Homo sapiens: one gene and its partners. The protein of the gene in region 1 purifies or fractionates together with the protein of each later gene. This does not show direct contact. Each region holds a gene or a part of one and is shown on either strand. Other genes may lie near its edges.

Region 1 (3,973 bases):
AAAGGGAATAATTGCCACCTCCCTCAGAGGGTTGCAGTGAAAATTAAAAGAGATAATAGATGTGAAAGTGCTTTATAATCTTTCAAGTGCCAAACACACATAAGGGATTATTATAGTAGGAAATGGTGTCTTCCAAAGAGTAATCATTTAGACAATGTTATAAACGTAATAAATTATTGGTTTCCATATTCAAACCATGACAAGTTCTTGTAGCCACGATGAGACGGAAAACTAATAATTTAGTATTTTTAGTTGATGTGTTTTTTTGTTTTGTTTGTTTTGTTTTGTTTTTGGGGTTTTTGTTTTGTTTTGTTTTGCTTTTGAGACAGGGTCTTGCTCTGTCACCCAGGCTTGAATGTAGTGGCATGATCTCGGCTCACTGCGACCTCCGCCTCCCGGGTTCAAGCGATTCTCCTGCCTTAGCGTCCCGAGTAGCTGGGATTACAGGCCCGCGCCACCACTCCCGGCTAATTTTTTGTATTTTTAGTAGAAACGGGGTTTCACCATGTTGCCCAGGCTGCTCTCCAACTCCTGACCTCAAGTGATCCGCCTGCCTCGGCCTCCCAAAGTGCTGGGATTATAAACGTGAGCCACTGTGCCCGGCCGCTGATGTGGAAATATTAATTTCACATCCCATAGAGGAATATACAGTGTTTTTGATATTTTAAAGTCGTTTTAACAGTGAGCTGTCTAGAAATTCAACCATTGTCTGCAGATTTTCTTACGATTCTGAGCATCACCCAGTGCGCTAATGGAAGGCTGAGGCTACCCCTTCGCTCTTCTCATTTTTAAGAAACTTCCAGCTATCCTTCCCTCTCCTAGGAAAGCTAACGGAATGCAGGAGATAAAATGGTTTCAGATTACATCCAGCGTGATAAACTGTGTCCTTGTCTTAATCTCGTCCAATTCCCAAAACATTTCCAGCTTGCTGTGAGGAGTTACATTCAGTGGTACAGAATGAGCCAGGCAGGCGACGGCGACTTGTAGGTTCCCCATCCCTTTTCTGAGATGCCGCGGTCAGCTCTAGAGACCTCAGGGATAGCAACAGAGCTGGAGATGGGTTAGGGGAGGATGGTGAGGACTACAAAGGTCTCCCCACCTCCCGGGGGCCGCGGAGGCGGGGCTGGATGAAGGTCGACGTGCCTCCTCCGGGCGGGGCGCTGCCAGGCTCTCAGCCTCTCTGTGGAAGGGCAGCCTGCGCCTGGGTACCGAGGCTGCTGCGCGGCGGACAGCGGGCGCGATGTATCTCCGCAGGGCGGTCTCCAAGACTCTGGCGCTGCCGCTGAGGGCGCCCCCCAACCCCGCGCCGCTCGGAAAGGACGGTGAGTAAGGAGGTCTAGCCCGGAGAGGAGGACGGGCGCCTCGGGTGCAGATTTCGCCCGCGCCAGGGAACCGGCCGGCACCCAGTTGGCCAAACCCGACCCAGAGCAGCAGAAGCCTGGATTGGAGGTCGAGGAGACTGGGGGAGACTCCCGGGAAGACGTCCCGAAGCTCCTGCAGACTTTGGAAGTAGGGAACTTTTCCAGGGTGCCTCAGAGTCCAGATTATCTGGGTTCGCATCCTGATCTTGGACAAATGGCTTAACCTGTTTCCTCATCTATAAAATGAGGGCGATGATGGTTTTCCTTTTTAATGAGTTAATGTATGGTTAAAAGCACTTAAAAACGTGCCTGGCTGACAAAGTCGCAGCTTACCACTTTTATTGTTAGAGGCACCATTCGCTCTCCAATCTCCTGAGGAAGCAGAGGAACGGTGGGAAGGTGGACGCCGATCAGCGAGCGGGCCCGGCAAGCGCTGGGAGGCAGTGAGGCAGGGCCCGCTCAGTGGACGCTGGGCGAATGTTCGTGGGGTAAATAAACCTAACCCTTGGCAGGGTCTCAGCAGCCTGAACCCCGCGAGCGCCTGGCTCTGAGATCCACAACCCCCAAAAAGGAAGCGGCCTTCGGGACACTTTCCTTTGAGGTTGCACGTCGTCCTGCAACTGCTTGGCTCTGTAGTCCAAATATCGACACCTTTGGTTCTGAGGATACGCGAGAAAAAGCAGAATACTCAGCAATTAACTAAAGGGGGAGTTGCAGTGTGAACTGGAGGCTTATTAAATAAAAACGGACATATAGGAAAGCGCTTCGTATAGTGCTGGGAACATAGTAGGTGCTTAATAGGTGTGAGCAAGGAAGATTGTTTTTCTTCTGGGACCAGGCTTGCGCTCCAGGGCGGTTCTGCCCCAGCCGCTTTTCCCTAGTCCCCATCCGTCACCCCTCTCTCTTCCACTCACGACTGGGGGACGGCTCTTAGACAATATCGTGAAGGGTTCTTAATGCTCTCTTCACTTAGCCTCACTTTCTGAGCCTTCCGAGATAATTTTACCCCAGAGGGTGGATTCCAGCAGGAGAGAAAGATGTGCGCGGAGAATTCCATGGGCCGATTTTTTTTTCACGTTGATTAGGCCTCTGTTGGTGGTGGTGGGAGGGAAGGACGGAGGTCTAACTAACTCGCTTTATTTTTCTTGTAAAATGCTGGTGGAAGGAAGTTATCCCTCAAGTATCAGAAATAAGACATCTTCGTTTTCCTAGATCTTTATTGCCTTTATTTTTCTAGATCTTTATACCAAATGATATAGAGCTTTTAAATATATATATACACTGATGAAGTAGGGAGAAGCCATTTATTTTAAACTTCGGAAGATAACGGGACTGTTCTGTTGAGAACGGGGAGAAAGATTAGTCCTCTGACCGTGGCCTTTCGTTTTATCTGTCTGCGTTCCCCACCGACATCATGCGCGCGTGCACGCACACACAAACACACACACACACACGCGCACCTTTTTTTTGTAGCTGCAGAAATTCCAAATAATTTTCTTCCCAATTTGCGGCAAAATAGAAGTAGTTTAAAAATTTTAAATACGTATCTAGCAATGCTGCTTGTAAAGGTACTGGTCTTTCTCTGATTTTCATCTAACTATTTTTGCAGCACTTAAAATGTATTTAAGAACTATTATTGATTGGAAACAAATTTGTCTTCAGTCGTGGACATTACTTAACCTTTTGTTCATACTTTCTACTTTGATGAAAAATAATTTTTTTCAGTTTTATTGAAGGAAAAATTTTTAACTGTGTCTCATCACATTTTGTTCTCTCCTTTTTGCTTTTAAAAGGGTAATTTTATTTTTTTGAGACAGAGTTTCACTCTTGTTGCTCAGGCTGGAGTGCAATGGCGTGATCTCGGCTCACCACAACCTCCGCCTCCCGGATCCAAGTGATTCTCCTGCCTCAGCCTCCGGAGTAGCTGGGATTACAGGCACGGGCCACCACACCCAGCTAATTTTGCATTTTTAGTAGAGATGGGGTTTCTCCATGTTGGTCAGGCTGGTCTTGAACTCCCAACCTAAGGTGATCCACCTACCTCGGCCTCCCAAAGTGCTGGGATTACAGGTGTGAGCCACCGAGCCCAGCCTTAAAAGGGTAACTTTTTAATGAATAAATAATTTAGATTTATAATAGATAATTGGGGAAAAACAGGTAAAATAAAAAATGGAATTCACCTGTAATCCTACCACTCAGTGAACACAACTAATTACGTTTTAGTATATTTAGTTTTCCAGACCTTTTTTTTCCCCTCATTCCTTCCTTGTGCACATTATTTCCACAAATCTTGGATAGTCCCAGAGTATTTTGCTATGACTTTTCACCTAATACATTGTAAATATTTTCTCATGTAAGTAAATATTGTTCTGCAAAAGTTATGTCTATTTGTTTCACATTGTATGAATGTGCTAAAATTTGTCTAATTAATCCTTATTGAAAAATTTCTCATTTCATTGTCTTTTTAAGTAACTTGTCCATCATTGTATTTGTATTTAAGTCTACTTAAATCTCTGGTAATTTTAGTTCTATTTAAAAAATATTTCTGATATTTTTGTCTGTTTGAGAAATATGAAGGCTATATATTCCCTATTTGATCACAGATGTACTTT
Region 2 (3,500 bases), on another chromosome or scaffold:
CCAACAGAAAGTGTAAATACCCCAGTTGGCAAGGATCCTGGCCTAGCTGGGCGGGGGGACCCAAAGGCTATGGCACAACTGAGAGTTCCACAACTGGGACCTCGGGCACCAAGTGCCACAGGAAAGGGTCCTAAGGAACTGGACACCAGAAGTTTAAAGGAAGAAAATTTTATAGCATCTATTGGTACGTATCAGTGTGTTTGGTGTGGTGGAGGGGTCCTGGCTTCTTAAATATCCCTTTCTCCTCAATTCATCCAGAATCCTGCCTTTCTCTGCCCCATGCTTTGCTTCTTAGAGAGGGAAGGGGGCCTGTGTCCATTTCTGGTGGTGTTTCTTTGTACTTCTCTAGTCTTTATGCTTCATCCACAGCCACCCCCCACCCCGTATCTTAGATGAAGAATGGTAAGTTTTGTTTAGAGGGCCCAATGAGGCTTACTGCAGGGGGTGTGAGCTGTACTCCTGGCCCCTCCTTTTATTTACGTCTGCATTTCTTCACATAGTGGAGAGAATTCCTGGAAGTGCTCAGGAAGTTTATAGATGCATTTTTGGGCTATAAAATTATGACATTTGTGTCTCTGAAGCCAGTGTCCTCCCATCCAACCATTATACTCCTCTGGAATGTGCTCCTCTGGGGCATGCCTGGCAACCCCATTTCCCTGGGTTCTGGATCTTTGAGGTATAGGTTTCCAAGTCAGTTCTTTAAATGCTTCTTCACTGGACTTGATTATAATCTCGTTTACATTTGGTGTTTCTCCGTTCCCACAAAGGCAGTGCCTTAGTGAGCTTTCTAGGCATCACCTCTGTTTGGCTCACTCCCTGCTTGACCTTGAGTCATCGAGGTTGGATCTTTCTTTTTCTGGTTCTAGGTCCCTAGGCACTCTGCTTCCAGCTGACATCTCATTGCCATGGCCATTAGCAGTTGCCATATGCTCCCATAAATGGTGACATGGAACCAGATTCCTTTTTAGGGGAGCTACACTTCCCTAGCCAGCAGAATATTATTCTAGTAGCAGTCAACTCCTGGCTTTCTCCTGCCTCATGTGATGTTGTAGAAAATGTACTGACCTGCTAGTCTGGAGATCTGGAGTTTTAGTCCCATATCAGCCTCCAACTAGGAATGCAACTTTGGGCAAATAACTTCACCTCTCAGGGTATCTGTCTCTTCATCTGGGAAATGAGGAAATCATACTAAGTACACTCTGAAGTTCCTTCCAGGAAAAGAATTGCTGTGGTTGCCATTCTGTCTGCTTTTCCCTATGAAGATGCTGGTCTTGACCATTTTATGTTCTCTGTCACCTCAACTGGAGGCATTTTTCCAGATCACTGGTGGGTAGGGCAGGTAGGGGTGAGTTGGTTTCTTGAGGAGCAATGAGGAGGGATGCTAACTGCCTGCATGAATTGGCCTTTGTTCAGTCCAGTGAATCAAGCAAAGATTGGTGTTCTTCCTTCTGAAACTCTGGCTGCTTGAGGTGTTCATCTGTCTCATCTGGAATCTGAAAAATTGCCCTTCCCCAGCTCATTTGGTAGAGAGAGTGTGTGGCATGGTGGGAGTTTAAATGGATCCTAAGTTACATGATCTTGATCAAGTGCTCCAGCCTCTTTAGGACCAGTTCCTCATGCAAAAATGAAGGAGCTTTGTTAAGGGCACTTCCAGCTCTAACATTCTGCAGGGTTTTTACTGCCACATTGGGATTGGAATTAGAAATTTGGAATCTGTTCATGAGTTTGGGTGGAGGGGTTAGATCTCTTGTTTTCTGCCCCTTCTCCCCATGAAGATATCTTTGTATCTCTTGGTTGGTAATCCAGTGCCTGAGACTGAATCGACTTGGGTGGGTGGGTTTCCATTTCGTCTGTCTGACCAGCCTCTGACTTTCTGTCTTTCTCTCCTGCTTGCATTGCATCTGGGGTAGAATTGTGGAACAAGCACCAGGAAGTGAAAAAGCAAAAAGCTTTGGAAAAACAGAGTAAGGAACAAATGCCCTTTCCTGTTCCCAAGTCCTCCATACCTGCCAACTCCCCAGGCCCAGTTGGGGCAGGCTCCCTTTGTCAGCCCCACCCCAAATTTGCTCTTAGAGCGTGTTTGGAATGGCAGCAGGTAGGTAGCATGTGACTCCTAGGTGTGTGTAGGCCGCTTCTTTCCCCCTCCCCTCGTGTCAATCAGGCTATAACCAGGTGTCTACTGAATACAACTCCCCAGAACTTGGTTCTCTGTTGCTTCAGAGTTGGTGGGGAGAATGTTTGCCTATTTTAGTGCCCCCCATTGGCTGATATCTCCCACACCTGTTAGAAGGCCTGTGGGCACAGTTGGCAGAGATGGTTGCTGTCCCTCCATGTTGAGTCTGTAGCTGCCCCACTCTCTGGTGGCTTGCCTAGGCACGCTTTCTTGCTTTCTGTCATTCTGTCTTTCTGCCATACCATTGTGGGTGGGTGGGGGACAAGGGGGGTGGTTTTCATCTCAAACATAGAAGTTGTAGGATGGAGGTAGGCAGTGCCCACCAAAACAGCTGGTGTTTCTTATCTCATCGGGCCCAACCTTTTCTACCTCCTTTAGACACATTTGTTTGGGAAGCATTAAGGGACCTGGGGACCATTAAATGGTTTCAGGTACCAGTGAAGCTCAGACTCTTGAGTGCCATGGAATGTGGTTTAGACATTTGTTCGTGGAGCTTTTCTTTTTTTTTTTTTTTGAGATGGAGTCTTGCTCTGCTGCTCAGGCTGGAGTGCAGTGGTACGATCTTGCCTCACTGCAACCTCTGCCTCCAGGGCTCAAGCAATTGTCGTGCCTCAACCTCCCGAGTAGCTGAGATTACAGGTGTGCATCACCACGCCCGGCTAATTTTTGTATTTTTTGGTAGAGACAGGGTTTCATCATGTTGGCCAGGCTGGTCTCAAACTCCTGACTTCAGGTGATCTACCTGCCTCAGCCTCCCAAAGTGCTGGGATTACAGTCGTGAGCCACCATGCCCAGCCTTGTGGAGCTTCTCTGTTTTAAGATGATTTGCTCAGAATTTTCTCAGGTTGAGAAGATGGCTGGAGAACCCATTGAGACCAGGTCTGATTTGTCCTACTTGGTTCTTAAGGCATCTGGGGTCCTCTTTTTCCAGTGGGTCCTGAGTGGGGGGTAGTCCTTGGAAAGGTGACTAGGATGGGCTGAACGGGTCTGGGAACAGCCTGTGCTGCCGTCCCACCCCCTTTACCAGCCTGCCCCTAGCCTTTGTGCACGGAGTAACAGAAGTCTTCCCCTACTCAGGGCCTGAAGTAATCAAACCTGTCTTTGACCTTGGTGAGACAGAGGAGAAAAAGTCCCAGATCAGCGCAGACAGTGGTGTGAGCCTGACGTCTAGTTCCCAGGTTTGTGACAACCTTGTTGAAATTTGCAAGTATTAAATATGCTGTCTCAGAATACTTCTTTAAGTTAAAATAGAACAGTCAGACAGCCGGGCACAGTGGCTCATGCTTGTAATCCCAGCACTTTGGGAGGCCGAGGCGGGTGGGTCACC
Region 3 (3,500 bases), on another chromosome or scaffold:
TTTCCCTAAAATATCCCTCTGAGCCCAGTTCTGGTCACTGAAAGTCACCCATAAGAATATTCCTTCAAACAGAATAAAAGCTATTTGAAGACGGCTATGCATGTTTCTTTGAGCCTTCTTTTTTCTATGTTAAACATGTCTCATTCTTTCAACTTTATCTTGACTTTCAATATGACATGATTGAAGAACCTGCCTCCATTCTGGCCACCAGGGACTTAATTTGTTACCATTTAAAATGTAGCTCCCCAAACTAGACATATTTCAAATGTGGTTTAACATACACATAGTATGGCAGAACGATTTTCTCTTACTTGAAAGTACACTTCTGTTATTACAGCTAGTTTTAATCATCATATACCCCACCATAATTTATACTAAGTATGCAGTGGATTTTCTGAACCTATGTAGGACTTTAAATCCAACTATATTGGTTTTACAATATTAGACTCACTAATATTTCCAAGTGGTGCATCCTTTTGATTATAGATTGTTATCTGATGTATTAGTTCCATCATCTGCAATAACAATGGCTACTATTTATTGAGAATCTACACTAGATATCCTTTCTGACTGCTTACATATATAATCTTACATCACAACCATGTAGTAAAATAGGTATAGAAGCTCAGAGAGATAATCTGCCTAAGGTAACCAGTTAACAGGAGGCAGGGCCAAGAACTCTCACCCATGAGTCTTACTGACTCCAGTGATAAGCTGTGCTTTAGCAGAAAAGGACTAAGGAAAGAAACCTTGTGGCAAGACACTGAAGACATCAATGAAAAAAAAAAATCAAAACTTCACACATCCCCTAGTATGCTGCAGAATTTATCTAGGCACCAAAAATTCCCTCCAGTGGTGATCTCATGGATACTAAAGTAAACGCATTTTGCTGCTCCTTTAATACTTTCAACTTAGCAGTCACAGGAAGCCTGTGACTCAAAGATACAACAAATTGTGTAAGTTCTTTACCTTATCAAGAGTAAACAGATCAAGAAGCTGATCAGTCCCCATGCTCTGCAAACTAGAATTCTCTTGGCTAATAACAGTATTCGCTATGTTCATCTTGAATTTCTGCAACCCCATTATTTTTTCTTCCAATGTTCCTCTGGTTATCAATCGGTATACGTTAACCACACGTTTCTGGATAAGAAAAACAGTTAAGCAACCGTAACACATATTATGCTTTGAGGTTCCAACGAGTCAGAGGGCTTGTAGACTTGTACTATTTTATACTACCTAATTAGGGTTGGATTTTTATTTTGTCTGGCCACATGAGCTCAAAATGTGTGCAGCAATCACAGAATATTAGGGATGAACAGTGATCCAGGTTTTCCTAAGTGCTAGCACCTCATTTAATGCATGAGGAAGTGATACCACAGAAGAGTTAAGTGATCTGTCCAAGGTCATAACACATGTATGTTAACACCAGAGCAAGAACTAAACCAAGGTTTCCTATCTTTCTGGGGGAGTATATTTTCATGCACAGGTTAACATCTGTGAGGTAAAATTGACTTTTACCTGCCCAATGCGATGGGCCCGGTCCATGGCTTGTAGATCTCGCATAGGATTCCAGTCATGCTCCACAAATACTACTGTGTCAGCGCCTGTCAAATTAAGTCCCAGGCCACCAACGTGAGTGGTAAGTAACAGAACGTCTATAGATGGATCATTATTAAACCTAAAAGTAGATAACAAAAATAAAATTAGTCCATTCTTAAGTCCTATAACAGAAACTGTTAATAAAAATTAAAGAGCACAAATGAAAATGCTGCTTTAAAAATCCACAATAGGGATACTTACATGATCATCTGAGAAAAATATCCTCTCAATATGTATAACGTTTTTAGTAAAAGAGGGCATTCCAAAGCTATTCAGGAATTTCATAAATACAAAATAAGGCAAACTGCATTGAATTTAGTAACATCAGGTAAGGACTAACTTGCAAAAATATAATTAAATGCTAATTATAATTAAGATAAACCCAACTATGAACCTTTAAAGTATGGGGACAGAGAAGTGTGAGAACAGGCTAGACTTTCATTCAGGGACGACAGAAGGTGAGAGTGTTAGGGTTGCTACTACTGTACTAGTCCTAGAAGACACTGACAAAGGATATCTAGTAACTTCTAGGAAAAAGAAAAAACTAACATTAAAAATAGCAGCTACCAAGCTACGATTTATTATCCTTACTACAAGTCAAGCAATAGTCTTTGTACTTTATATGCATTATTTTATTTAATTGTTACAATAGCTCTATAAGGGTATTATTACCAATATCCCTATTTTAGAGAGACTGAGGCTGTGTGAATGATAAACAGGCTCAAGAGAACACTGCTTAAATAGCAGAGCCAGGAGTCAAACCTGAGCCTGTCGGCTTCCAAAGTCCCTCCCCGGGTCTCTAACTTTATTGTGCCTAATGATCTCTTAGGGATGCTTGTTTTTTTTTTTTTTTTTTTTTTGAGACAGAGTCTTGCTCTGTTGCTCAGGCTGAAGTGCAGTGGCCCAATCCAATCTCTGCTCACTGCAACTCTGCCTCTCGGGTTCAAGTCATTTTCCTGCCTCAGCCTCCAGAGTAGCTGGGATTACAGGCATGTGCCACCACATCCAGCTAATTTTTATATTTTTAGTAGAGACAGGGTTTCACCATGTTGGCCAGGCTGGTCTTGAACTCCTGACCTCAAGTAATCCACCCACCTTGGCCTCCCAAAGTGCTGGGATTACAGGCATGAGTCACCGCGCTCAGCTGGGATGCTTGTTAAAAATGGCTACTCTTGAAGTCAGCAGCTTTGGGACTAAGCAGAACCTAGGAATCTGCATTTTTTTTTTAAAAAAAAAAGCAACCACTGAGATTTTAAAAGTAGAGGCTGCAGACCACATGTGAACACTGCACTCACCAGTTCTGCTTCCTAGCTGGGCCAGATTCCAACTTGTTCTCAGTGCACAAACAGGGATTAGGATGGAGATTTTAGCTAAGCCACTTGTTTGGTTCCTCTCACCCTAATTCTCCCAAAAAGGTAAGGGGGAAAGTAGTTATCCTTACTGTTGGTTGATGCCTTAAATTTCTTTCATGCTCTTCAGAGTGCTTTTCTATTACAGTCACACCCTTTTCATATGCTAAGCAAATAATCTATTCGATTATATTTATGTAGTTCTATAGTTAAAAAGGGGTTTATTTGGGGTGAATTACACAATTAAAAAAATGCATTTGCAGATATTTAGCCAATGAAAATATTTCATGGGGCAAACTTCTATGTAAGTAATAATATATTTATTTATGAATAAGAGTCTTAGAAGCCACTTACCGGGAAACAATGGAATGCCTCTGACCAGGAGGTATGCTGCCATCTAATCTCAAATAAGTGACAGAGGGCAAGTGAGGTTTGAGGAGATCATGCTCTACTATATCAAGCATGCTTTTCAGCTGACAGAATATCAGTATCCTGTGCTGGGCCACAACAGACTCTGTGCCACTCTCGGAAGTGCTGCCATTTCCCAAACCG
Region 4 (3,500 bases), on another chromosome or scaffold:
ATGGGATCAATGGCGGGGAGGAACTGATGGTGGGATCAACGGGGGGGATGAACTGATGGTGGGATCAATGGGAGTTCCCAGTGTTGGGGCTCATAGTAGGTTGAATGCCATCTACAATGAAAAAACATTCACCAAGGCCTCCAGTACATCACAAACCTTTTTTTTTTTTTTTTTGATACAGAGTCTTGCTCTGTCGCTCAGGCTGGAGTGCAGTTATGCGAGATCGGCTCACTGTAACCTCCGCCTCCCAGATTCAAGGGATTCTCCTGCCTCAGCCTCCTGAGTACCTGGGATTACAGGCACCCGCCACCACACCCAGCTAATTTTTGTATTTTTAGTGGAGACAGGGTTTCAGCACGTTGGTCAGGCTGGTCTCTAGAACTCCTTACCTCAAGTAATCTGCCCACCTCAGCCTCCCAGAGTGCTGGGATTACAGGTGTGAGCCGCCACGCCCAACATATATATATATATATTTCTATATATGTATCTTTATATATATATTTCTATATATGTATATATATTTTTTCTATACATATATATATATATATTTTTTTTTTTTTTTTTTTTTTTTTTTGAGACGGGGTCTCACCCAGGCTGAAGTACAGTAGTGTCATCTCACCTCACTGCAGCCTTGACCTCCTTGGGTTCAGGTGATCCTCCTAAGTAGCTGGGACTACAGGTGTACACCACCATGCCTGACTAATTTGTTTTTGTTTTTGTAGAGACAGGACTCCAGCCTGGGTAACAGAGGAAGACCTTCTCTCTTTAAAAAAAAAAAAAAAAGTGAGTGTGGCCTGCCACCTTGAAAGAGGTCACTGATTCGCTGTTACTAGGGCATTTGCTTTTTTGGACGAACACACCATCCTTTGATCAGTGGCATAGACTTGGATGACAGTTGGCCAAAGTAATGAGTGCAGTTTACTTAGGGACAAAGCAAAGGTGGTTGACCTGTATGGTATTTGAACTTACTGGCTTTCTGATGAAAGGATTTACCCAGAAGCTCTTTTTCAATGATTTGGAGTTACGTTATCGAACACAAATAGATTTCAGATATTTCTTTATTTTACTACGTAGCTGGTAAGTTTCTCAGTATCTTTAAATGTTATACTTTTTAGGCATGTGGTTATTATGACAGGTAGGAGTATTTTGTATGAATAGACATGGGTTAGAAAGTTTTTACGTCTATCATTTTTATTTTTATTAATTAATTAATTAATTAATTATTGAGACTGAGTCTTGGCTTTGTCACCCAGGCTGGAGGGCAGTGGTGTGATCTCAGCCCACTGCAACCTCTGCCTCCTGGTCTTAAGCCATCCTCCCACGTCAGCCTCTCGAGTATCGGGACTACAGGCGCACATCACCACACCCAGCTAATTTTTTAATGTGTATTCTTGGTAGAGACAGGGTTTTGACCTGTTGGCCAGGCTGGTCTCCAACTCCTGAGCTCAAGTGGTCCACCCATCTCGGCCTCCTAAAGTGCTAGGATTACAGGCATGAGCTGTCACACCTGGCCACTTCTATCTTTTTAAAAATATTCCTTATTATAGCCTATTTTCTTTAGATATATTCTAGTGCTTGGAGCAAATTACACAAACCAGTATTAAGCTAGGCCCACAACTTGATTAAAAATAAAAATAGGCCAGGTGCGTGGCTCACGCCTGTAATCCCAGCACTTTGGGAGGCCAAGGCAGGTGGATCACTTGAGGTCAGGAGTTGAAGACCAGCCTGGCCAACATAGTGAAAGCCCATCTCTACTAAAAATACAAAAAAATACAGCTGGGACCTGTAGTCCCAACTACTCAGGAGGCTGAGGCATGACAATTGCTTGAATCCAGGAGGCAGAGGTTGCAGTGAACTGAAATCGCACCACTGCACTCCCAGCCTGGGTGACAGAGTGAAACTGTCCCCCAAAAATCAATAGGTAAATAAATAAAATAAAATAATCCCTCATGGGGATTTTACTTCATTCGTTACTTTCAGAGTGTGCGTTAGGTACTAGGTTTGCTTCTAGATTTCCAACATTTGCCTCTAGTGGAGTAGGGAAGCTGCATAAACATTCTATATGTCCAGGCCTGTTTTTCCTTCCTGTCGTTGCCTTTCCCAGGCGGAGATGCTGGTGCTCTATCATTTTTATTGACCCACCTATTTTATGCCAGGTGCCTGCTACGCTCTAGTTGCAAGAATGTACAAACAGCTTTTCTCCAAGGAGCTCCCAGTCTAATGAGAAAGACTTTTTTTTTTCAAATACTTAGAAACCTTGGAAGACATTTTCGTTGAAATCTCAATTGAATAATTCCTTTGCTTAGTAAACACTGTTTAGGAACTTGTTGAGCCCTGATGCCAGGGATGGAAAGATAAGTAAGGCCCCAGGTCTGAATCTTGAGGAACTCATCAGATTATAGAGCGATGTTTTCCAGAGTGAGGCCTGTGTCATTGGTAGGCATGGGTGAGGATGTGTCTATGGCCCTTGACATTGTTAATTATAACTAGCCCATCGAACATGTTATTTCATTGGTAGAATTGTTTAAGAGATGATGGAAGTAGGTATTTTAGGATAAATAAGTGAGTTGCCTTGAAGAAAAATATTTAAATAGTAATTCAGGTAATATCTCGATATGAATATAAGGGTAATACTCAAATGATTGGCTTAGGGGAACCCTGATCCAGAGAGACAGTGTGAGTAATGAAAACACAGGATTAACTGATTAGTTGTGAATGAGGGAAACACAAGGACTTCATTGTTGAAGGTGATTAATCAGATTTTTTTTTTTAAGACAGTCTTGCTCTGTCACCCAGGCTGGAGTGCAGTGACACAATCTTGGCTCACTGCAACCTCTGCCTCCTGCATTCAAGCTATTCTCCTGCCTCAGCCTCCCCAGTAGCTGGAATTACAGGCATTACAGGCATGTGCCACTACACCTGGCTAATTTTTGTATTTTTTTTTTTTAGTAGAGATTGGGTTTCACCCTGTTGGCCAGGCTGGTCTCGAACTCCTGGCCTCAAGTAATCCACCTGCCTCAGCCTCCCAGAGTGGTAGTATTACAAGTGTGAGCCACAGTGCCTGGCCGAAAGTAATTAATCAAATTTTAAGAAGGGTCTGTATTGGAGTAAATATTGATTTTCAAAATAGTATCTTCACCTGAATGAACTATTTTGTTTGAATGTGCAGAAATACTTTTCTAGAGTATTCATTGCAGCATGGTAGTGAAATTGGAAATTACATGAATGTCCAACAGTAGGAAATTGGTTAATATCTTATCAATCGATAAGGCAGAGATAGTATGAAGCCATTGGAAATGATGAAGCAGGTGCATAATTTGCCATAAAAGGGCACTCAGAATACCTAGATACTGGGAAGGGGTTAGGTGAAAATGCCAAGAATGGAAAGCCCCAAAGGATGTGCTAACGTGGGAATAGTAGTTACCCTTTAGCTCTGGGATTTCAACTTTTTTTTTTTTTTTTTTTTTTTTTGAGATGGAGTCTTGCTCTGTTGCCCAGGC
Region 5 (3,240 bases), on another chromosome or scaffold:
GCCCCTTCCCAAGATCATCCCCACTGCCTCCTCAACTGTGCTCTCTGAAACTAAAAGAAAAGAAGCTAAGGGCATGTGGGTCAAGAAATGAGGTGACACCAGGCAGTGGCATACACACCTGCCCCCCGTCCCTTGATGCAGTAGACTATCGTTTTTGTATATTCTCTCTCATCCTGTCTCTCGATTCTCGGGCTGGAATGAAGGGAGAGGTGAGCTCTAAAATGTCAGTGAAGGTGATACATGCATGTCTTCACTGGCTAGCTATAGGCCAGGTGTCAGAAGGTGGGAGTAAGGGTTTGCTTTGTTCCATTTTGTTGTTGTTTTGTTTTGTTTTGTTTTTCTTTTTTTTTTTTTTTTTAATGGCAGAGTCTCGCTCTGTCACCCAGGCTGGAGTGCAGTGGTGTGATCTCGGCTCACTGCAACCTCCGCCCCCCAGGTTCAAGTGATTCTCATGCCTCAGCCTCCCAAGTAGCTGGGACTACAGGCAACCACCACTACGCCCAGCTAATTTTTGTATTTATAGTAGAGACGGGGTTTCGCCATGTTAGCCAGGCTGGTCTCAAACTCCTGACCTCAGGTGATCTGCCTGCCTCGGCCTCTCAAAGTGCTGGGATTACAGGCTTGAGCCACTGCTCCCAGCCTATTTTGGTTTTTATAGAAGAATAACTCTGAGGCTAGTTTAAAAGGCCAGATTAAGTAATATCTTTAAGAAATAATCACCCCTCTTCATTACTCACACATGGACCACAGAACGATCATAGGTGACCTTGGGCAAGTAACTTCTCTTTGCCTCAGTTTCCCCACCAGTAAAATGAGGATAATTATGATACTGACCTCATGAGGTTGTTGTTTGGGGTTCCATGGTTCATTAGTTTGCCTGGCACATAGTAAGCCCCAGTAAATGTTACCATTATTAATGGTAGTGTGCTTTCTCTTGGAATTGGACATTGCAGAGGATGCCTTCAGCCTAGCCGTGGCCTCAGGGATCATTAAGGTCTTACTTTTCTTCCTGTCCTTCTCTTCCAGTGGTAATGGGAAACTGGCATCCTGGGCCTCCATCCTGGGATTTGTAGTGATGATGTCACTGGACGTTGGCCTGGGCTAGGGCTGAGACGCTTCGGACCCCGGGAAAGGCCATACGAAGAAACAGCAGTGGTTGGCTTCTATGGGACAACAAGCTTCTTTCTTCACATTAAAACTTTTTTCCTTCCTCTCTTCTTCATCTCATTATCCTGATTGACTCTGATTATAATAGAACCATTTTTACTTTGCTTTGAGGGAGATTTTTGATTTAATGGGGAATTTTAAGGTGTCATGGAAATACAGATTCTTTGTTTTGGCCACTGAATGGACTCTCTCTTCAGTGGGATTATCAAGGAACTTCAGATCAGGGAAATCTCCACTTCGGGACCTTCTATCTGCCTCCCAACTCCTCAAGGTCACCTATAGAAGCGAGCTACCAAAAGACGTCTCCTAAGCATTTTGGTGGCCTAGTGACTCAGGGCAGAGTGGCCAGCACACCTCTCATCCGCCCCTCCTGCTCCATCACTGCTGAGCCTCTCCCCATCTAGAATGTTGGAACTGGAGCATCATAAAGATAGCAAGCTACCTTCCAAGGCCGAGCCAGCCCAGAGAGGAGCATGTCTTCCTTTACCTCCCCCTAAGGAGATACTACATGGGAGGGGGACACAGAAAAAGGGAAGGAAATTGGCTAGTCTGGCTTTTTTTTTTTTTTTTTTTAAAGGCAAAGATTGACATTATTGAAGGAAAGGGGATGAGGACAACTGTGAACTCACAGTGAGCCCTGTGGAAAGAAGAGACAGACAGAGTGTGGGTTTGTTCGGAGGCCTCTGCTGTCAATGGATTCCAGGAGCAAGGCCATTTGTCGCGCTTTCCAAATTTCTTAGGCATTTATTTTGATAAGTTTATAGCCATCATGTTTCTAAGAGACTTGGAGACACCAGCAAACTGCTAGAACTCAAACTCTTCAATTACTCAAAGAAGGAGCCATTTCAGTTAACTCAAGTGAATGAAAGAGTTTTGGAATCTGCTGTGGGTCCTTCCCTGTTGACCATTTGGTAACTTATAATCTGACAAAAACTCTTGAGCTGCAACAGGCCTTGCCAGAGGGCTCAGGATGGGAAAGGAAGAAGGGGATAGGAAAAGAAGAGGTAATTTTACATTTCCCCTTTAAAGTAAATTTTAGCCAACTCATCATTCTGAAATGTCCCTATAAAGAATGAGTCGAACTAGACCAGAAGCCAGCCTACTCCTTCTTACATAGCTTCTCCAACAGGGGTAGCAATGACCTGTCCACTTCAAACACAGATAAGGCCTGCCATCCTCATTGGTTAAAGGCACACGTGAGACTTTCAGTGGGCTCTGCTGAGAAGGAAGGCAGCCCAGGAGTCAGGTATGCAGGCATTGCATTGTCAGTGTCTGCTCTCAGAGTTTACACATTCAATTGCTTCCAAGGGTGAATCTCCTGCTCTGTGAATGCTATCAGACCCCAAAGGCCAACCTTGGGCTGGGTCTATGTACGTTCTTCCGAAGCACTGATGATCAAAATTGAAGACACATTCAGAGGTTTGATTGGTTGAGATTAACTGGTGTGGTGGTTGGTGTATGTATGTTTTATTTTTATGTCTTTGTATGTAGTTCTACATAATGCAAATTGTGCTTTCTGATGGACAAGACCTCATAACTGTGATTAATATCAATAAAAAGGGGATGTTGTGGATGACCTGTGTTACGTTCAGTACTTCTCAAAGCTGCTTCTTTGCAAGGATGATCATAAAAGAGCTAACTAAAGTTGGAACTAACACCTCCCTGATCCAACACTAGGAGAGGCAAAGGAAAGAGCTCAGATGGGAAGGGCTAGTCAGATTCTTGGTTGCAACAACAGCATCCAACAGCAGCTTACTTAAACAGAAAAGGAAATGAGTGGAAGCCTGTTAGGGAATTCACAGGCTCTTTCGGAGAATCGGGCTTGAAAATGGGTTGGATCCAAGAAAGCCAGAGGTCTGGGGCCATGACCCAATCACACCTGGAGAACAGCTTGGTTTAGATGCCATGGTCCCCAGAGCTGGTCCCTAGATCCTGGACACCACTAATGAAACTGCTGTACCTTGATGCCACCACCACTGCCGCCACAAGAACAAACTCTACACTGAGCTGGATTCTTTGTGTCCTGGCTCCACATTCGAAGTTCTAGATCAGAACATCCAGCTGCCAGAGCTT
Region 6 (4,028 bases), on another chromosome or scaffold:
AGCCTCTGGTAACCACCTTTCTATTCTGTTTCTAGGAGATCAACTTTCTTAGATTTCCCCAAAAAGATTAGATTTTAGATCACTACTTGTCTTTCTATGTCTAGCTTATTTCATTTAGCATAATGTCCTCCAGATCCATCCATTTTATCACAAATGATAGGGTTTCCTTCTTTTTTAAGGCTGAATAGTATTCCATTGTATCTTATATACATTTTCTTTATCCATTCATCCACTGATAAACACCTGGGTTGCTTCCATATCTTGGCTATTGTGAATACTGCTGCAATGAACATGGGACTGCACATACCTCTTAGACAATTTCAATTCCTTTGGATACATGCCCAGAAGTGGAATTGGTGGATTGGTGTACAATAATTTGACATATATTTAAAACATTTCTAGTTTTTCGCTATTACAAATAATGCTGCAATTAATATCATTGTGTATTTCTTTAAGTACTGGTCTTTACATTTCTATCAGATAAACCCCCATAAGTAGAATTTTCAGGCCAGAGAATGTCATTTTAATAAATATTGCTACATTACGTTCCCAAAAAGTAATACTAACTTACAGACCCAATAGTTTGAGAGTAACTTTTCCCCATGCCCTATTAGTACTAGAAATCATATTCACTTTTGTCCATCTGATGGCAGGGGTGGGAGGATGCTATACATTATTAGGGACAGAGAACATCTTTTCATCTGTTCACTGTCCATCTATATTTCACCCTTTTGTGAAATGCCTGTTCCAATCCTTTGTCCTTGATTCTGTTGGTTTGTCTTCTTATTTGTACTAACTTGAGATGTCTTTTATCAAAGTTTTAAAATTTTTTCGGCAATCAAATCTGCCAATTTCTTCTCTTATGGATTATGAATTCTTAAGTTTTGCTTAGGCCTCTTCTGCTATCCAAGGATTATTAAAATAATCTATGTTTTCCTCTAATTATTTTATTACAATTTTGTTGTTTTATATTTAGATCTTTAATCAATCTGGAATTTATTCATGTGGTGTAATGACTTAGTAGTTGTTCCAACACCATTTATTGAATTATCCATTTTTAAATGCTTCCTCCTAGAGTAACAGATCACTACAAATAGCTAAGACGGCAGACAGACAAAATGCCTAGAAATTTTTAAACGTCACTACTTAAAGCAGTATCCAAAGTTTATTAAAAGACATTCATCATTTTCTCATTAAAAGAAATCACATATTAGGACACATGCACACAGTGAACCACTCAACATACACTGTGAAGTTTTTTTTTTCAACATAGTAGCAAACTAAATTAAATCGCTGATCTAACTATATAAGCCTGATTTTGTTTCAACATAAATGGTAAAAGCAGAAATAATCATTGCTTGAAATCTCAAGATTAGTCATTGATTTGGGTCGCAAATATTTATTGAGCACCAACTGACTATGGATACAATGGGGAACAAAACAAGTTTGATCCCTACTTTCAGGAAGCTTGCAATCTAGTAGGAGCTTCTCTCCTCTAAAAAATAATGTTTTTAAGTGAAGAAGGAAAAAAAAGAAATGTACGTTCACACAAACGCAAAGCAGTGAAAAACATTCCGGCAAATTTTATGACACATTCTGTACTTCCCATTTCCAAAATACTATCTTATTACTTCAAATGTACCTATTTATTGTGGTGACTGTCTTCATTACTGTACTCATGTTGAAAACACTGCTAGGGAGTTATGACTAATTCCATTAGCCTCTATCTCAAAGTACCTATGTTTAGTCTCCTCACTTTCTCAACAATATTTAATTTCTTTCATTACAATAAATAAAAACCTCAATAAGAGAAATTACAAACCTATATACATCAGTCATGTTCAGTCCACCGACTCAAAAGTATTTCTTTAAAGTACATGCAGATTTAAAAATTTTCCATGAATCCGCGCGGGCGTGGTGGCGGGCGCCTGTAATCCCAACTACTCGGGAGGCTAAGGCAGGAGAATCGCTTGAACCCGGGAAGCGGAGGTTGCAGTGAGCCCAGGTTGTGCCACTGCACTCCAGCCTCGGTGACAAAAGAGAAACTCCGTCTCAACAAATAAATAAATAAATAACTCCTAGAGTCTTAGCAAATGGCACTACTGTGTCGCTGGGAGACGAAGCAAGAAGTCTGGTGTTCCCTCAACAATAGGTAACAACTGATTAGTGACAGTCACCTTAAACTTTTTGAGTACCAAGACCCAGAAACTGCCACCACTCTTAGACTGAAGCGTTCAGATGCTTGCCCCTGTGGTAACGCCCCCCACCTCAATCCCAATCCAAGGCCTCCCCCTCATACTCCAGCACCTCCCAACTGAATGGGGAGGTGGGACAAAGTACCGCCCAAGGGAAGGAGACGGGACTCCTGCTCCTGCGGGGTGACCTTGGCCAAGTGTCTCCTTCTCAGTTTTCCCATATGTGAGATAAGGTTGGTAGTCCGTGCCCGCCTCCACCATCCGGGCCGGGTTCAGCGTATAATGCCGCAAGGCTGGAGGAAAGCTCCAGCCCTGTACCCCACGCGGCTCCCCGAGACCGCGCCGCCACCTTCTGGGTCTGCGGCCAGCCGCGCTACCTGCAATCTGGGAGACGAAGGCTTCCGCCACTAGAGACATGTCGGCTGGGAGGCCCGGCGCCCGGGTGCCTGCCCCCCACGGGCCTCAGCGTCCTCCACCGCAAACCCGGAGGCTCTCGGCAGTTAACGAGCCTAGCCCCGCCAACGTTCAGACTCGCAAAGCCCACTCCAACAGCAGCGGCGGCTGCAGTGAGGCCCCCAAGGTTACCGCCAGGCCTGGCTAGGGACTTCCGGCGCAGCCGACAACGGCACTCGAGCGCTTCCGCCGGCCCCGCCCCCGCGCCGTCCTACGGGGCGCCGGCGCGGCTAGCTCCGTCCAGCCAATTCCAGGCTCTGCGCTGGGGGCCCGCAGGTGGAAGCGAAGTACCCGACTCGTCTCCCACCCAGGGGACTGGCAGGGGAATCTGGGAGATTTTTAGCGTCCTTTCTGTAAGCCAGAATTTTGTAACCGAGTAACATTTGTAAACGCCCACTGGATACCAGGCACTTATATACCTATATCTACACACACATATATACATATATACACACACACATACACACATATATAATATATACACGTATATATGTACACATGTACATATATACACATATATACATATATATACACATATATTCTATTTGACTTCGTCTTCTCAACAACCCATTAAAGTAATAATATTATCGCCATTTTACGGATAAGAATATAGGCTTAAGGAGTTTAAACTGCCTGCCCAGGCAGTCCTCCAAGGACCAGATTCAAGGCTGCATGAATTCCCTCTATTCCATTATATTGCTGGGTTGATTAGTCCGTGGATAGACATTAGTGTTTTTTGTTGTTGTTGTTTATTCAAACATGCTTGGCAGAAAGGAGGCTTGAGCAGCGCCTAAGCCAGAAGGTAATTTGTCCTTCAACTCCATACACCCGAAATGATGCTCAGCTTGGAGAATAAGATACTTTAGTTTCACACACTTCTCACCTTTCGGGGGTGAACGGGGCAGGAAGAGGAGAAACTAAATTCCCTGAGTAACTTTGTCTTAACCTAATAGCTTCTTAAATTACACAATTAAAGAAAAATCATATGCATTACAGATTGGTGGTATTACAAGTGGGACAGGCTTCAGAGCTGGTAACCCAAAGCCCCCTTCACTGATGAGAAACAAGTTCAGAGAGGTGAGGTAACTCATTTTAAATCACACAGTAAATCAAAAAGTCAGACAGCTTACTAGGTTTTTGCAGAGGAAACCTGTATTCTAAGAATTACTGTCCATGACATTTAGAAAGCTATATTTCCATTCTTTATATCCGTAGATCTCTATTACTGTTCATTCTGCCTCCTTAACTAGCGTGGTTGGTTTCCTAGAGCTGCCAGATTACCACAAACTGGTTGGCTAAACAACAGAAATTCATTCTCACAATTCTGGAGGCTAGAAGTCTGAAATCAAGGTGTCAGCAGGGCCATGCTGTCTTGCAAGG
Region 7 (3,500 bases), on another chromosome or scaffold:
ATAGTCTATATTACTGCTATTTTTAATTAGTCTTTTGCAAGCCTCATTTTAAAGGAGACTGAGTTTGAGTTGTTTTCTCTGTATGCGTTTAGTGTGCCAGGACAGCCGTATTTGGAGGAGCCCTACCAAAATGTCTGTTTCCAAGCTTTTCTGACTATTTTACAGTCTCCAAAATCATCTGATATGGATGATATCACATTTTGCATGGTAAGTGGACTATCATTGACGTAGTGAATGTTGCGGATGTGTCTAGAAGCAGATTGGAAAAGTGTTACTAACGAGTTTAATTTGCACCATTAGCTTCGTCTAGAGAAATACACATATATGAAATGTTTGTAACCTAAAAAGACTAAAATCATACCATTTCGGTTTAAATTATAAGAAGCTTTTTATTTGTTATATTTTGCAATTCTAGATTTTTAGAGGAAACTATTCTTTTTCCTTCTGAGTATAAAAGCAATAGTTGCAGGCTAGTGACTATCTTTAAGATGAAAGTAAAGAGAGATTTCACCAAATATATCTGCAATATTTTATTTCTTTTTTAAAAATACGATGCAAACGACAGTTTATTAACATCTTTTAAATTTAGAGTAACACATTTCAAATGTTATATAGCTGAGATAAAGTTCCTTCTAGTCTCCTGCTCGGATATAGCCACTGAAGACAATTTGTGCTGTGTGCCCTCAGATTTTTTTTTCTATATGTAAATGAGCATAATTACAGCTTTAAGTGGGATCATATTTAACATGCTGTTTTGTAACTTTCTTGTTTTGTTAAAACTTAATATCTCTGGGACATCTATTCGGTTCCTGTTAATATACCTCATAGTTTCTAACTGCTATGGCTGGAAGACCTTGGACAAGTTAGTTAACTTCTTGGAGCCTCTGTGTTCCTCCCTGAAAAGGGACTGATATAACCACATTGTGGGGTTCTTATGAGAAGTATATGAAATAAAGCATTCAAAGGGCCTACTGTTATTGTTGTTGAGTTTTACATTTAGCAGAGGGTTAGCTTCTTTTATAATCATTATCATAATCATCAAAATTGAAGTTTTTAAAATTTTCCCACTATTTCAAACAAGGCTACAGTTCACATCATCCCAATGTCGGAAGTGTTTCTTAAGGAGAGAGTTCTAGAAATGAGATTACTGAGTCAAGAAATCAATCTTGGTCAGAATTGCCCTCCAGAAACCAAGTTTCTATAATTTATCAGCAGTTCCCACATACATCCCCTTGCTTTTAAGAGGGCTGGGTTTGCCATATTACAGAGCTTTCCCAATTCTGATCTGTGCTATCTTTTTTATCCCTTGTCACATTTTTCTTGCTAAACATCTTCTCTCTTTTTTCTTGCTCACCATTTGTACATAGTGGTTTATAAACATGTACAATAAGACCACTTCATTATTCTTTTCTTCTAGAAAAGAATTCATGGTAGTTTATTAGGTCTCCTTAGATCTTCATTTCTGCTTTGTGTGTGTATATGTGTGTCTATAATAAAGTTTTTTTTCATCATCTAGAGACTGTCTCTCTTCCATCCTAAGTGGTGCTAGTAAGTTGATTCCTGGACAACCAGATTTTATTCTGCCTTCTAACTGGGTCTCCCTTTTCCCCCTAGTTATTGCAAAATGCATTAAAAGGTATACAGTCACTTCTAAATGGTGGGAGAATGAAACTAACACAGACTGATGAACTTGGAGCACTTTTAGCTGTGCTAAAGGTAAGGCAAGTCTTCATATGATCATTGTCTTTCCTGTTTCAACCCATGGTACAAGGACCACTTTACATCCTTATTCTAAGGCTAACTTTGAGGTATTAAAAGTTCTTACATATATTTTGAGAGAGTAGACAAAAATGTTCATATTCAAAGACACTTAATATTAAGAACAGAAAATAAATCTCCATTTAATAAATGCATCAAAATTTTAAAATTATTTATGAATCTTAGGAAGGGAATCGGTAGGGGAGTATGACCTATAGAATATTTAATTATAGACTATGTTGTACTTGTTTGTACAAGAAGAGCCAGTGCTTCTCCTTGGCTTTCTCCTCCAAGTAGTAGACAGGCCAACCAAGACGTGTGTCAATGGGCAGCTTCCGAGCGTGCCAGTCAGTCGGAAAGTCAGGCCAGCATCTCTGGGGACCCAGCTTCTTCAGCCAGCAAAGTAAGAAGTAATTCTTTCCTTGTGGCATTCTCTTGCTCCCACATCAAATAGAGAGATAGCTATAGGTGGAGATAGGTAAATAAAAATGATAAATTTGTTTAAAAAATTATAGACAGATAAAGTAATTGGATAAATTTTATAAATAAATAAGGAAACTAAAACCAGACCTGATTTGATCTGACCAAACCAAATCCAGCTGGAGGCCAGATAAACTTCAGCTCTTCTTTAAGCCCTATGCCTTCAAGGTATCTATTTTCTATCTCATTTATATTTCCTTAGTAGGCTTTTGAACATTATCTATGAGTGTTGTGATCCAGACATGGTAAATAGTTCTATTTTATGATTAATGGTTTATGATTAATGGTTTTTTTGGTTTCGTGTGTGTGTGTGTGTCCTTATTCATCATTATTAGAAATTCATGTTTCACGGACTCCCTGGACTAAACATAGAGATGCCCACGGTGTTATACCCAACTCCGCTTCCTCAGTATGATGGGCGAACACCTATCAAACCACAGCAATCAGAATCCAGTGCTTCTCGACCAACTTTGGTACATTTATGTTTATTTAGATTTAAGTTGTGGCTTATTTTTAATAGATTGTTGTGTGTGTTTTCTATGATTTGCATCACTACTACCCTAAAAGCCTACCTTGAATTTTATTTCAGTTTAGGGTTGTTAGCATAGTAAATTTAAACTCATCTGATGCTCAAAATACCAATTAAAGCATCTTATACTTCTTAGAGGTGTAGTCAGTATAACAGCTATAAAAATGAGCATTCACTTTATACCCCAAACCAAGCATTCTCATCCCCATGATGCTCAAGACCAGGAGTCAACAAACGTTCTCTAAACTTTCTCTACTAGGCTAGTAAATACTTCAGGTCTCTGTCATAACTACCAACTCTATTGTAACAGTGCAAAAGCAGCCATAGACACTATGTAAATGAATGGGCATGACTGTGTTTCACTAAAATTTTATTTACAGAAGCAGGCTGTGTGCTGGGCTGGATTTGGCTTTTGGGCCATAATTTGCCAACCCCACTCTAGACTGTTAGAAGCCCACCTACCAGTCAGCGCACCATCTCCACACCTTACATTCACCTGATTTCCCAGCCTTTCCAGAAGCTGCCATCTCCCTCGTGCTTTGGTTGGAGAACCTGGAGCATACAGATGTATGGCCAAGGATTCACTTCCAGAAATGTCATACCTGATCAAAGTGCTTCTTATTAGAAATTATTTCACTCATTCACTCACTCAGCATTTACCCAACATCTGCTGTGTTCCAGACGCTGTGCTAAGCACTAAGTATATAGACTCTGGCTGCTTTTAGGAGTTTGA

The links.
Region 2: the proteins of MGARP (region 1) and MADD purify together in Homo sapiens (affinity purification with mass spectrometry; one large-scale study listed by BioGRID and IntAct). This does not show direct contact.
Region 3: the proteins of MGARP (region 1) and BTAF1 purify together in Homo sapiens (affinity purification with mass spectrometry; one large-scale study listed by BioGRID and IntAct). This does not show direct contact.
Region 4: the proteins of MGARP (region 1) and SLC25A33 purify together in Homo sapiens (affinity purification with mass spectrometry; one large-scale study listed by BioGRID and IntAct). This does not show direct contact.
Region 5: the proteins of MGARP (region 1) and SLC39A11 purify together in Homo sapiens (affinity purification with mass spectrometry; one large-scale study listed by BioGRID and IntAct). This does not show direct contact.
Region 6: the proteins of MGARP (region 1) and MTX2 purify together in Homo sapiens (affinity purification with mass spectrometry; one large-scale study listed by BioGRID and IntAct). This does not show direct contact.
Region 7: the proteins of MGARP (region 1) and HEATR6 purify together in Homo sapiens (co-immunoprecipitation; 2 studies listed by BioGRID and IntAct, with this or other methods). This does not show direct contact.

The regions. Positions count from the first base shown.
Region 1 is NC_000004.12:139,277,426-139,281,398, reverse strand, and holds the start of MGARP (protein MGARP), read left to right. Parts: upstream 1-1,173; 5' UTR 1,174-1,240; coding exon 1,241-1,322; intron 1,323-3,973. UniProt on the Homo sapiens protein: Plays a role in the trafficking of mitochondria along microtubules. Regulates the kinesin-mediated axonal transport of mitochondria to nerve terminals along microtubules during hypoxia.
Region 2 is NC_000011.10:47,290,633-47,294,132, forward strand, and holds part of MADD (MAP kinase-activating death domain protein), read left to right. Parts: coding exon 1-184; intron 185-1,910; coding exon 1,911-1,964; intron 1,965-2,857; exon of another isoform or gene 2,858-3,250; coding exon 3,251-3,351; intron 3,352-3,500. UniProt on the Homo sapiens protein: Guanyl-nucleotide exchange factor that regulates small GTPases of the Rab family. Converts GDP-bound inactive form of RAB27A and RAB27B to the GTP-bound active forms.
Region 3 is NC_000010.11:92,024,770-92,028,269, reverse strand, and holds part of BTAF1 (TATA-binding protein-associated factor 172), read right to left. Parts: coding exon 3,303-3,500; intron 1,679-3,302; coding exon 1,519-1,678; intron 1,141-1,518; coding exon 970-1,140; intron 1-969. UniProt on the Homo sapiens protein: Regulates transcription in association with TATA binding protein (TBP). Removes TBP from the TATA box in an ATP-dependent manner.
Region 4 is NC_000001.11:9,549,465-9,552,964, forward strand, and holds part of SLC25A33 (solute carrier family 25 member 33), read left to right. Parts: intron 1-3,500. UniProt on the Homo sapiens protein: Mitochondrial transporter that imports/exports pyrimidine nucleotides into and from mitochondria. Selectively transports uridine, thymidine, guanosine, cytosine and inosine (deoxy)nucleoside di- and triphosphates by an antiport mechanism.
Region 5 is NC_000017.11:72,645,449-72,648,688, reverse strand, and holds the end of SLC39A11 (zinc transporter ZIP11), read left to right. Parts: intron 1-1,026; coding exon 1,027-1,105; 3' UTR 1,106-2,740; downstream 2,741-3,240. UniProt on the Homo sapiens protein: Zinc importer that regulates cytosolic zinc concentrations either via zinc influx from the extracellular compartment or efflux from intracellular organelles such as Golgi apparatus. May transport copper ions as well.
Region 6 is NC_000002.12:176,268,214-176,272,241, reverse strand, and holds the start of MTX2 (metaxin-2), read right to left. Parts: upstream 2,801-4,028; 5' UTR 2,613-2,800; coding exon 2,573-2,612; intron 2,029-2,572; exon of another isoform or gene 1,833-2,028; coding exon of another isoform or gene 1,823-1,832; intron 1-1,822. UniProt on the Homo sapiens protein: Involved in transport of proteins into the mitochondrion.
Region 7 is NC_000017.11:60,068,922-60,072,421, reverse strand, and holds part of HEATR6 (HEAT repeat-containing protein 6), read left to right. Parts: intron 1-92; coding exon 93-207; intron 208-1,614; coding exon 1,615-1,716; intron 1,717-2,573; coding exon 2,574-2,711; intron 2,712-3,500. UniProt on the Homo sapiens protein: Amplification-dependent oncogene.